Regions from separate parts of the Homo sapiens genome. Here regions 1 and 3 are each linked to region 2. Evidence: fine-mapped expression QTL. A gene starts in region 2. Each other region holds a variant in brackets. All regions are shown on one strand. Distances are between the middles of the regions. Region 1 overlaps GNB4 (G protein subunit beta 4). Region 2 holds the start of MFN1 (mitofusin 1). Region 3 overlaps GNB4 (G protein subunit beta 4).

The links. PIP is the estimated chance that this variant, and not a neighbour inherited with it, causes the effect. A credible set is the group of variants that fine-mapping cannot tell apart.
Region 1: its variant is the best candidate, but not a certain one, in a credible set for the expression of MFN1 in subcutaneous fat (GTEx, PIP 0.65).
Region 3: its variant is the best candidate, but not a certain one, in a credible set for the expression of MFN1 in whole blood (INTERVAL, PIP 0.50).

Annotation. Positions count from the first base shown.
Region 1 is chr3:179,424,455-179,428,697 of GRCh38, reverse strand. It overlaps GNB4 (G protein subunit beta 4), which reads left to right. Exons shown (of 10, transcript NM_021629.4): 2 at 2,456-2,554. The coding sequence starts at 2,498. Among named protein-coding and RNA genes, the nearest start is that of GNB4, 25 kb to the left of the region's middle. The variant G/A (reference allele first, on the strand shown) is at 1,747.
Region 2 is chr3:179,345,487-179,349,729 of GRCh38, reverse strand. It overlaps MFN1 (mitofusin 1), which reads right to left and starts at 2,021. Exons shown (of 18, transcript NM_033540.3): 1 at 1,920-2,021; 2 at 767-885. The coding sequence starts at 878. RefSeq lists enhancers at 1,230-1,449, 1,783-2,312 and a silencer at 1,570-1,729.
Region 3 is chr3:179,407,361-179,411,603 of GRCh38, reverse strand. All of the region lies in intron 8 of GNB4 (G protein subunit beta 4), which reads left to right. Among named protein-coding and RNA genes, the nearest start is that of GNB4, 42 kb to the left of the region's middle. The variant A/G (reference allele first, on the strand shown) is at 2,352.

The DNA of each region.
Region 1 (4,243 bases), 79 kb before region 2:
AAATAATAACCATAATAGTAATAATAATAACTGCAAATTTTTAAAAAGTCCCGAGGCCCTTTAGGGTCCCTCGATAGTTCTTTCTAGTGTTTTAGTTAGTAGGAGGGATGTAAACTAGTTGTGCTTACCCAAAATGTTTTGGGACCCTAAAAATAAAGAGGTATCAAAATAATGAGAGTTTCTAGGACTGTGGGGCCAGGGATATCTCAGGAATGGTCAGCAAGGGCAGCTAAGGTTGCGGCTTTAAAGAGCCCGCATGCTGCTTGTCTTCACTTCAGCGGAATGGGATTCCAGACCGGCTGTAATCTGTCCAGTCTGGCCCTCTCTGAGATGCATACTAAATTGTTAAACAATCAAACTTTATCAGGGAATGGTTAAGACTCATAAATAAAGATGGAAAATTTGGATAAACAGAGAAATATGCCACAATATTAAATTGGAAATGGAATATTAGAATGATTTTAGTTCTTCTGGAACTGTTTTATATACCTTAATGCCATTCCAGTCAATCCCAATACATTTATTTTTTAATTGGACAAAATAAATACAAAGTGAATTCTGAAAGAATAAATAGATACTGGTTTTTCTTTTCTTTTTGTCTGAACATAATAAACAGATATTTGTACCATAGTTGATGCGATTGTAGCATAGACATCAAAACCAAATTCTCTCTCATGAGGGGAATCAATCTTTTATAGGAATTTGGACTTAGGACAGTCATTTCGGGCTACAATCTTGACCTAAAAAGTTATAGGCTTGGGTTTTGTACTTAGGGGAGCAGAAAAAGTCATTCTGTAGAAAGAAAAAAACCAAGGAAGATAAGAAGAGAAAAGAGACCAGGACAGGTAGAGAAAGAATACTCCCAGTTTCTAGCCTCTAGTGTCTTTTTGAGGTAGTAATATTCCTGTCTTTTGGTTCTGTGATTCATCCTAAATCCTTAGAATGAATATTCCTTTATTTGTTAAGCTATTTCAGGTTGCTTTATTTACTGGAGACCAAAGTATCTTAAGTGATGGGGATACAACAAAGAATAAAGCAAACAGAGACCCTACCTGAAGGAACTTTACATCTTTTTTTTTTTTTTTTTTTTTTAAAGCCAGAGTCTCACTCTGTCACCCAGGCTGGAGTGCAGTGGTGTGACCTCGGCTCACTGCAGCCTCCTCCTCCCAGATTCAAGCAATTCTTTTGCCTCAGCTTCCCAAATAGCTGGGATTGCAGTCATGTGCCACCACACCCAGCTAATTTTTGTAATTTTGGTAGAGATGAGGTTTCGCCATGTTGCCCAGGCTGGTCTTGAACTCCTGGCCTCAAGCGATGCACCCACCTCAGCCTCCCAAAGTGATGGGATTACAGGCGTGAGCCACCACACCAGACCCTTTACATCTTATCAGAAGGAAAGAGATCACAAGTAAGTAAATACATGCTGATGGTGTTGAGTCTCATAGTGAAAAACAAGACAGGGTAAGAGGAGCATGTTTGGGTGCACATGTGCTATCAGCAAAGGTCCCACTGAGAAGATCACATTTGGGCAGATTTAGTAAGGGAGCAAGGGATTATAAAATCAGAGACAGGAGCTATCCAAGCAGAGGCAGGAGCAAATGCAAAGACACTGAGACTGGGGCCTGCTTAGCATGTTCAGGGAACATCAGAGAAGTCTTTGAACAACTGGAACAGAGTGAGTGTGAGAGTGATACATGAGGTCAGAGGGGGGTGTGTGTGTGTAATGATACAGGGTCTGTGGGTCAA[G/A]ATAGAGTTTAGTGGAGTGGAAAACCATTGGAGGATTTAAAGTGACTTGTATTTTAAATGGATCTCTAGTTGCTCTAATTAGACCAGAGAGTGGTCGAGGGCAGCAGAAAGGAGACCAGGTGAGAGATGGTCATGGTGATGTGGACCCAGACAGTAGAAGTGGAGGAAATCAGAATTAGAACCTGGATAATTTCTTAAGGAATAACTGACATGATTTGCAAATGGATTCGATGGGGAGGCTATGATTAAAACAGGACTGCTCCCACATTTTTAGCTTAAACAATTGTAAGTAAGGATGGTCTTGCCGTTTCCTGAGATGGGGAAGGCTTGGGGGTGGGGTGGGGTTCAGTTTTGAGGTACTGTGTTAGGTGCCAATCCAGACATCCAAGTGGGGAAGTCTCTTGGTGTCCTCTGAACTGTTGTAAAATATTTCTCACCAGACTCCATTCTGGTACTAATTCCCCATAATTCAGCCTTGAATACTACAACTTGGAATTTCTCCTCCATCCTCTGATCATGTTCTTGTATACAACCCTTCAGTAAATAACCTCATTCTATATTTACTAAGCATCTTTAAATTCCTTTAATAATTGACTACCTCCATTGAATTTCAGTAGGTCCAAAAAGAAGTTATATGTCAGTATTGTAAAACCAGATTAAGATGTAAGTAGAGAACTGAATCTTTCTCTTGCTCTCTGTTTTTTAACAGCTGTTTTCACTCATTAGCTCCTGAGGTAAACAAATTGAAAAAATGAGCGAACTGGAACAGTTGAGGCAAGAAGCAGAACAACTGCGGAATCAGATTCAGGTAAAACCTTTTCATTTCAAAATGTTAGCACTTATTTAGTACCAGGAATCTACAAAATTTGCCTATTAGTTTATCAGTCTATATTAAATGATTTCTAAGGCTAGAAATGGTCTTTTTTTCTCTCACATGGCGAAGTAAGAACTGAGGTCTATTTGTGTTTACCATGTCTCGAAAGAACTCTTCAAAATTCATTGCGAACAAGTACCTATGTAGAAGAATGGCCTCTATGAAAGACAGACATAATTCTCTTTTTATTTACATGCCTAGAATCATAGATTTTTGGTACAAAACCATAATGTAGATAGTGTCACAATATAATGTCACACTAGGGAAATATTAATCTATACATTAATTAGGTTGCAGAAAATCATTAGGGTGGGCACAGTGGCTCATGCCTGTAATCCCAGCACTTTGGGAGGCTGAGGCAGGTGGATCACCTGAGGTCAGGAGTTCAAGACCAGCCTGGCCAACATGGTGAAACTCTGTCTCTACTAAAAATAGAAAAATTAGCCAGGCGTGGTGGTGCACACCTGTAATCCCAGCTACTTGGGAGGCTGAGGCAGGAGAATGGCTTGATCCCTGGAGACGGAGGTTGCAACGAGCTGAACTCACGCCACTGCACTCCAGCCTGGGTGACAGAGCGAGACTCTGTCTCAGAAAAACAAAACAAAACTATCAGTGGCAGAATCAAAACATGTCTGACACCTTTTACTCTTGGAATCAACTCAAAACAGTAAGGATAAGAAACAACTACAAACTCCATCTTTAACAAAATTAACAGACACTAGAACTTCAAAGCGTAATGGATGGAGAGGAGTTGCCAAATGCAGTGAAGCAGCAGCACGTGGGGAGGCTCTGAGAGGAGGCGTCTGCGTGGGGAGCACTCTCTAAGAGACAGCACCACGGTCCCTTCTTTGGAACAATGGGAACAGATGCTTCCTTGGACTTCATTAGCACTGAGAAATATCAAGGAAGGCAGAGCTAAAAATGAAAGGATATAGACATGCCATCTTGTAGGAAGCCTGGCGGTAAGCAGGGTGGAGGAAAGAGGCTTTGAGTTGTGAGTAGCCTGGCAGCTGCCTACTTCTTTTCCCAGAGAAAAGTAAAGGCTAAAGCAACGTACAAGGGTAAGCAGGGAGAATCTCATAACTTGGAACACAGCTGCTGCTTTTCCCAGTTTGAACCTCTCACAATAGCTGTTTCTGAAGAATTTGTCTAATTTAAAAGTGAAGAGTAGGCTGGGGGCAGTGGCTCACGCCTGTAATCCCAGCATTTTGGAAGGCTGAGGCGGGAGGATTGCTTGAGACAGGAATTCAAGACCAGCCTGGGCAACATAGGGAGATCCGTCTCTACAAAAACAAACAAAAAAACGTTAGCCGGGTGTGGTGGCTTGTGCCTGTAGTCCCAGCTACTCGGGAGGCTGAGGTGGGAGGATTGCTTGAGTCCAGGAGTTCGAGGCTGCAGTGAACCATGATCACACCACTGCATTCTAACTGGACAAAAGAGCAAGACCCTGTCTCCAAAAATAAAATCTCTACAAAGATGATACAAGAAAAGAGAAGAAAAGATTAGTAAAAACAGGGATGGATGAAGAACATTCACCAGAAAAGTGTTGATTCTGAGTGAAGTCATAACCAGACAGACTTATTGCCAGGAATTCAAGGAAGGTAACTATTTAGATGTGAATAA
Region 2 (4,243 bases):
GAGACCAGCCTGGCCAATATGGTGAAACCCTGTCTCTACTAAAAACACAAAAATTAGTCAGGCATGGTGGCACGTGCACTGTAGTCCCATTTACTTGGGAGGCTGAGGCAGAAGAATCGCTTGAACCCAGGAAGTGGAGGCTGCAGTGAGCCAAGAACATGCCACTGCACTCCAGCCTGGGCAACAAGACAAGACTCTGTCTCAAAAAAAAAAAAAAGAAGTATTCCCTAGTAAGACATGACATTCCTCATCACCTTTAACAGTTATGAAACTCCTTTTTCCCCCTTTCCACTGCAATTCAGCCTCATTTGAGAGAATGAGATATGTCTGAGGTCTTGGCTTAACTGCTAAATTGGGGAGGAGACAAGTATAATGGTTAAATGTGGACTGCCTGATTTTTTGTCTGGGCACTTATTAGCTGTGTGATCTTGGGCAAACTGTTTAACTTTTCTTTGACTTCGTCTCTTCATCTTTAAAATGACAGATGGTGGTGATGAAAATTAAATGAACTATTAACATAGCTATTTCTCATCACCTAGTGGTGATGAAAATTAAATGAGCTATTAATATACTAAAGTTCTTAGTTGTTATTAATACCATTTAATTTTCCCCTTCTGGAGGTTAGAAAGGGGTTTTATTCATTATGGTACTTCTCATAGTATACAGTATAATGCCCTATACATGTGTTCAATAACTAACGTTGAAAGAATAAGCACTTTTATATATTTTCAACAGTAATTACTTTAAAAACTTAAGAAGAACTAACCTTCAACAAAATGTGATCCTTCAGTAACAAACTCCAGTAACTGGTCAAAGATTGCAGTAATCGCCTTCTTAGCCAGCACAAAGTGCTTCAGTGGAGAAACAGGTTCTGCCATTATGCTACTAGAGGGAGATAAAGTTAGAAAAGCACCAACTAAAGTGGATGATAGACATGCAAACTGATGACACACCAGTGACATTCATCAACTCCCCAATGAAATAAATTATGCTGGCAAAATGTTTTTAGGTAATTCTTTTTTGGGAGTGTTCTAGTCAGACAGTTAGAGACGACTTTTGAATGATATTTCACTAAAATAAGTGAAATCTATTAGCCAAAATCTTGGTTGCAATTTCTACTCAATTTCCCTTTGGTGAAGACGAAACTAATTGTGACTAAGTTTGTCACTGCATGTGACTCTAAAGTACATCAGGGAACAGGGTTAGTGAGGCGAAGCCAAATTCACACACAATAAGGAAGTTACTAAGTTTCTCAACCTGAAGCTCTAGGTGAGTAGGAGTGGATATGCAGAGTGAGGAAATAAAATTCTAAGATCACAATGTGAGGCTGACATTTAGAAAGGTAAGGCTTCAAGAGGGCATTAACGCTTCCAGCCAAAGTACCAGAAACTTCAAGGACTATAAGTTTAAGAAAGCATAGGTGGTTTCTCAAGAAAAAGACACCAAAGACAAACAATCACGGTCTAATCCTGGTGTGTACATGGAAAGGAACAGTGGCCATAAAGAAGGCGGATTCTTCCAGAGAGTCAAGAAATGACCGCGCGAAGGAGCTGCGTGGGAAAAGCCGGGTGGGGGTAACGCCCCGGTCCGGCCGGTGTGAACACCTGCCTTAGAAAAGGCCTCCCACCTTCCCACACCGGGCGCAGGAGTCAGGGCCAGAGCCCACCCCCGCCCCGCGCACGACCGTCTAGGTCCGGATCCCCCAATCCCACCCCCGAGCACGGCCTCGTGGGCTCCGTGGGCTCGACTCGGCCGCCAGCCCCGTTCGCCCGACAGCTGGCTCTCTCCTTTCCCACAGGACCGCGGCGGGCGGCGCCTCGTCACACAACGCTGCATGCACGACTCCCGCCCCCGGTCCCCAGTCGCTCGAAGGTCACTCCGAGCGTCGCAAACGTGCTGTCGAGGCAGCCGGCACTCACAGTCTCCGCTCCAACTATCACCCGGCAACAGCAACTCGGCCACAGATGCCAAACTGCCTCATCTTCCCGAGAAGTTAAAGGCGGAGAGGAGGCAGGGGGAGTGGCAAAGGGCGGTCACTTCCGGCCTCTTGCCTCCTCTGTTCTGTTTGGCTCCGTGGCCGGAAGCGCATCTATGCCAGGCGCCATTTTCCTTAAGGGCAGAAGGCAAGGTTTGTTGTGGGCAGAGACTGCTACCAGGAGAGTGGTTTTCCGTTCCCCCTTCCAACTTCTTCCCCTCCCTTCTCCCCTCAAAGTGTCCAAGTATCTGCCCAGCCTAGGCTTAGCTAGCTTCCAATGATGGTGGTGGCTGACGCCTATAATCCCAGCACTTTGGGAGACCGAAGGGGTGGGATATCTCTTAAGCCCAGGAGTTCGAGACTAGGCTGGGCAACATAGGGAGGCGCCCCCCCCCCCGCCCCCGACCCTCTTCCTCCTCCCCGTCTCTACAAAATTAAAAAATGAAAAATTAAAAAAATTTTAAAAACTTAGCGAGGCGTGGTGGCACACACCTGTGGTCCCAGCTACTTCGGAGACTGAGGCGGGGGGATTGTTTGGGCCCGGGGCTGCAGCGAACTGTGATTTATCGTGCCACTGCACTCCAGCCTGGGCAAGAGAGCGAGACATTTTTTCAAATAAATAAATAAATAAATAAAAGAAAAGAAATCCAGATCGTATTACTTTCCGAACTTAAAAAGCTTTCCAGGCCGGGCGGGGTGGCTCACGCCTGTAATCCCAGCACTTTGGGAGGCCGAGGCGGGCGGATCACAAGGTCAGGAGATCGGGAGCATCCTGGCTAACACGGTGAACGCCCGTCTCTACTAAAAATACAAGAAGTAGCCGGGCGTGGTGGTGGCGGGCGCCTGTAGTTCCAGCTACTCAGGAGCCTGAGGCAGAGAATTGCTTGAACCCGGGAGGCGGAGGTTACAGTGAGCCGAGATCGCGCCACTGCACTCCAGCCTGGGCGACAGAGCCAGACTCCATCTCAAAAAAAAAAAAAAAAAAAAAAAAAAAAAAAAAAAAGCTTTCCAACAGCTTGCCATTATACTTAAAATTAAAGCTTCGGATGGTAACCGCCCAAGGAAAGCCTTCACCTTGCCCGCTGACTAGCCAGAACTGATACAAGACAGGGGGATTGCAAATAAAGACTTAGTCACGCAAAGCCGGCTGTATGGGAGACTGGAGTTTTATTATTACTGAAATCAGTCTCCCCGAGCAGCACTGGGGAGCAGAATTTTTAAGGACAATTTGGTGGGTTGGGGGAGGCCACTGAGCCAGGAGTGCTGATTGGTCAGGGATGAAATCGCAGGGAGTGGAAGCTGTCTTTCTGCACGAGTCAGTTCCTGGGTTGGGGGACACTAGGTCAGATGAGCCAGTTTATCGGTCTGGGTCGTGCCAGCTAATCCATCAGTTCTGAGCATAGGTAGTCTCAAAGGGAACATTTACTCTGTTTGAATTTTAAAAATCATGATGGTATCCTTTTATTAGTTCTGTACTTAATAATTATATTTAATATAATTACTGCATTTTAAAGCAAGAGTGACATATTACAGGCTATAAATTATAGCACGGTAATTAAATGTTTAATATAGTAAGTAATAAGAAATTTAATCCATTGCTTTTGTGTGTGTGTGGAACACACATATTACCAAAAAGCCAGGAGAGTAAACACAAAGAAGGAAAAGAATTAAAATATAAACGCTAAAACCAACATAGATATTAACAAAAACTAACGTTATTTGAAAGAAATTATCAATTTGATGTATCACTGCCAAATCTGTTCAAGAACATAAAAAATGAAAGGACACAAATTAAGGGGAGAATAACTATAGATATATATATAAATGCCAACAAATTGAAAAGCTTAGATGAAGTATAAAATCTGGGAAAACATCAAATACCAAAATTAGACCGAGAAAAAATAGAAAACTCGAATAGGCTAAGTTTCCCACATATTCAAAACTAGCCAGGTCTAGATGATTTTCGGGGTAACTTTCTATTACATGTTTAACGAAAAGATTAATCTTGCCGGGTGCGATGGCTCACGCCTGTAATCCCAGCAGTTTGGATCATGAGGCGTGTGGATCATGAGGTCAGGAGTTCGAGACCAGCCTGTCCAATATGGTGAAACCTTGTCTCTAATAAAAAACACAAAAATTAGCCAGGCGTGGTGGCAGGTGCCTGTAGTCTCAGCTACTCCAGAGGGAGAGGCAGGAGAATCACTTGAATCCGGGAGGCGGAGGTTTCAGTGAGCCAACATCACGCTACTGCACTCCAGCCTGGGCGAA
Region 3 (4,243 bases), 62 kb before region 2:
GCTAAAGTCTTTATGAGGAATGAGTGTTGAATTTTTGTCAAATACTTTTTGTCCGTCTGTTGAGATGTTCGTGTGGTTTTTTTTCAGCCACTTAAAATGGTGTGTTTACATTGATTTTCTCCTGTTTTTTTTTTTTTGTCAAAACATTAGTACCATCTTTTACAAATATAAGTAAATATAGAGGCTTCCTTTTGGAATAAAATGATTCAAACAAAGATACTGTATATATAACAGTTTTCCTTTTTTCAGATGAAATTATGACCAACTTCATTATATTTTTATAATATTTTGAAATTCAGTGATGATTTTAACAGTGACATTTCTCACACTGTTTAGAATGTTAGGCTTAGAAATGAAACTATAATAGTTTCATTTGTGGCTGAGCCCCATATATTCACTGAGTGAGTTGCTGAAATTTTCCATTTGGCTCTATATTTGTGGGGCCTCTAGGTGTCTCTCAGCAGTAAAGACACTTAATAATTGTAAACTGTGATTATTAATTTCATTAACTCAGTGCCAGATTCAGTTATTTCTATCATAGATCAAGGCTTTTTTCCTCCCCAGCCCCTACTTTATTAAGGTATAATTGACAAATTGTATATATTTACAGTGTATAATGTGATGTCGTATTAGATATGGGGCTATTTAGGTTATCCATTTCTTTTTGAGTGAACTTTCAAAGATTTTATCTATATCATCTACATTGTCATATTTATTGGCTTACAGCTATTTATTATACTCTCAATTTTTTTGATATCTATAGAGTTTACAGGATATCCTGCTCTCATTTATGATGTTGGTAATTTCTGTTTTACTTTTTTCCTGATAGTCTGGGACTGTGGGTTGAATTGTGCCCATCTAAAATTTATATGTTGAAGTCTTAAAGCCCAGGACCTCAGACCGTGACCTTATTTGAAAATAAGGTTGGTCCAGATATAATTGGTTAAAATGAGGTCATAATGGATTGGGTGACACTAATCCAGCGTGGCTATTGTCCTTATAAAAGGGGGAAGTTTGGAGACAGGCAAGCATAGAGGGAAGATGATGTGAAGAGACACAGGAGAAGACAGTCATCTACAGGACAGTGAGAAGATTACACATCTTTCTGTCACAGTCCTCAGATATCTTGGTTTCAAGTTTCTAGCCTCCAGAACTGTGAGACAATACATTCCTTTTGTTTAAGCCACCCAGCTTGTGGTGCTTTGTTATGGCAGCCTTAGCAATGAACATATCTATCTATCTATCTATCAATCAATAAATAAATCAACTATCTCCTCAGAGAACCAGCTTTTGTTCTGAGTGATACTCTGTTGTTTTTCTGTTTCATTGATCTTTCACTCTCATCTTTATTATTTCTTTTCTACTGCTTACTTGGTGTATTAGTTCGTTCTCACACTGCTATGAAGAAATACCTGATACTGGGTAATTTATAAAGAGAAGAGGTTTAATAGACTCACAGTTCTGCATGGCTGGGGAGGCCTCAGGAAACTTACAATCATGGTGGAAGGCACCTCTCCATAGGGCAGCAGGAGAGAGAATGAGTGCCGAGCGAAGGGGGAAGCCCCTTATAAACCATCAGATCTCGTGAGAACTCACTGTCACAAGAACAGCCTGCAGGGAGACCACTCCCATGATTCAGTTACCTTCCACCGGCTCCCTCACAACACGTGGGGATTTGGGGATTACAATGCAAGATGAGATTTGGGTGGGGAAACAAAGCCAAACTGATCACTCGGATTCACTGGCTTTTCTTTTTCTAGTTTTTTTTTTGTTTTGTTTTTTTGTTTTTTTTTTTGAGACAGAGTCTTGCTCTGTTGCGAGGCTGGAGTGTAGTGGTGCGATCTCGGCTCACTGCAACCTCTGCCTCCCAGTTTCAAGCAATTCTCCTGCCTCAGCCTTCGAAGTAACTGAGACTACAGGCGCACACCACCACGCCCAGCTAATTTTTGAATTTTTAGTAGAGAAGGGGTTTCACCATGTTGGCCAGGATGGTCTCGATCTCTTGACCTCGTGATCTGCCTGCCTCGGCCTCCCAAAGTGCTGGGATTACAGGCGTGAGTCACAGCCCCTGGCCTTTTTTTTTTTGTTTTTGAGATGGAGTTTCTCCCTTGTTGCCCAGGCTGGAGTGCAATGGCGTGATGTTGGCTCACCACAATCTCTGCCTCCCAGGTTCAAGTGATTCTCCTGCCTCAGCCTCCCGAGTACCTGGGATTACAGGCATGAGCCAACACACCCGGCTGATTTTTTTGTATTTTTAGTGGAGACGAGGTTTCTCCATGTGGTCAGGCTGGTCTCGAACTCCCGACCTCAGGTGATCCACCCACCTCGGCCTCCCAAAGTGCTGGGATTAC[A/G]GGCATGAGCCACTGTGCACAGCCTTTTTTCTAGTTTTTTTAAGATAGAAGCTGATGTCATTGATTTGGAACTTTTTAAAATTTCTAATACTGGAACTTAAAGCCATAATTTTTTTTTTTTTTTTTTACTGGGTTTCACTGTCACCCAGGCTGGAGTGCAGTGGTGCAGTCATGGCTCACTGCAGCCTCGACTTCCCTGGGCCCAAGTAGCTGGGTATACAGGTGCGTGCCACCATGCCTGGCTATTTTGTGTGCGTGTGTGTATTTTTTGCAGAGATAGGGTCTTGCCATGTTGCCCAGGCTGGTCTCGAACTCCTGGGCTGAAGTGATCTTTTGTCTTAGCCTCCCAGAGTGCTCGGATTTCAGGAGTGAGCCACCATGCCTGGCCCTTCTTCATGTTTCTTGTGTTTGGATCTATGAGTTTCTTTTTTTTTTTGAGTTTCTTTCTTTTTCTTTTTTTTGATACTGACTCTCGCTCTGTCACCCAGGCTGGAGTGCAGTTGCATGATCTCGGCTCACTGCAACCTCCACCTCCCGGGTTCAAGCAATTCTCTTGCCTCAGCCTCCTGAGTAGCTGGGACTACAGGTGCACACTACCATGCCCGGCTAATTGTTTGTATTTTTAGTAGAGGCGGGGTTTTATTACATTGGCCAGGCTGGTCTTGAACTCCTGACCTCAGGTGATCTGTCTGCCTCGGCCTCCCAAAATGCTGGGATTAAAGGCGTGAGCCACCGCACCGAGCCCCTAATCAGATTTTTTTTTCTGTCTCCTCTCTTCCTTCCTTTGGAGACTTTAAGTTACATAGACATTAAACCACTTGAAGTTTTCCCAGAGCTCACTCATGTTCTGTTCATCTTATTGTTCAGGATATTTTTCTTTCTGTATTTTACTTTGGATGGGTCCTATTGCTTTGCCTTCATATGTCTTTTCTGTTGTATCTAATCGGCCGTGAACCCATCCAGTGCACTTTTCATCCCAGACGTTGTTGTCCTTGTCTGTTAATTTTATCTTCTGTGACTTTTTCTGTTTTTTTCAACTGATTAATTTTTCTCCTAATTATAGGTCATATTTTCTTGCTTTTTTGCATGTCTGGTGAATTTTTATTAGATACCAGACATTGTGAATTTTACCTTGTTGGATGCTAGATAATTTTATATTCATAAAAATATTATTTAGATTTGCTCTGGGGCATAGCTAAAATCAGACTGGCCAAGTTAAGTTACTTGGAAACTATTTGATCATTATAGGGTTTGCATGTAAGTTTTGTTAGATGGGACCAGAGTCACACCGTGTGTGCTTAATTTTGCCCCACTGGTGAGGCAAAAGACTTAAAACCCCTCTTCTCAAGAAATTACGAGGTTTTTCCGGTGTATAATGAGGTTATTATGAGGTTTTCCCTCTGTCTGGAGGGGATAGGCATTATTTTTGTCCTATGTACACACCAGGGTTTGTTTCCTGTAATCTTTTTGGGTGTCTTTTGCAGCTTGATTAGTTTTCTCACACGGCTCTGCTGATCGGTACTCAGTTGACTACCTAAAGGATGTCCTCAGCATGCCTCTGGAGTTTTCTCTTTGCCAAGCATTGTCCTCTCTGACACTCTCTGTGAACTCTAGCTGCTGTGGACTTCTTGGATTCCCAGTGCTTTCTCCTCAACTCAGGGAGGCCAGTGGGCTCCAGCTGCGTTTCTCTTCCCTTCACCATGACCTTTATAAACTTTCATAGTAAGATGGTAGTAAGGTAGTAAGATGGAGCAGCTGTAGGAATGATCTTATTTATTTATTTACTTACTTATTTTGAGACAGTCTCATTCTGTCACCCAGGCTGGAGTGCAGTGGCATGATCTCGGCTCACTGCAACCTCAGCCTTCTGGGTTCAAGTGATTCTCCTGCCT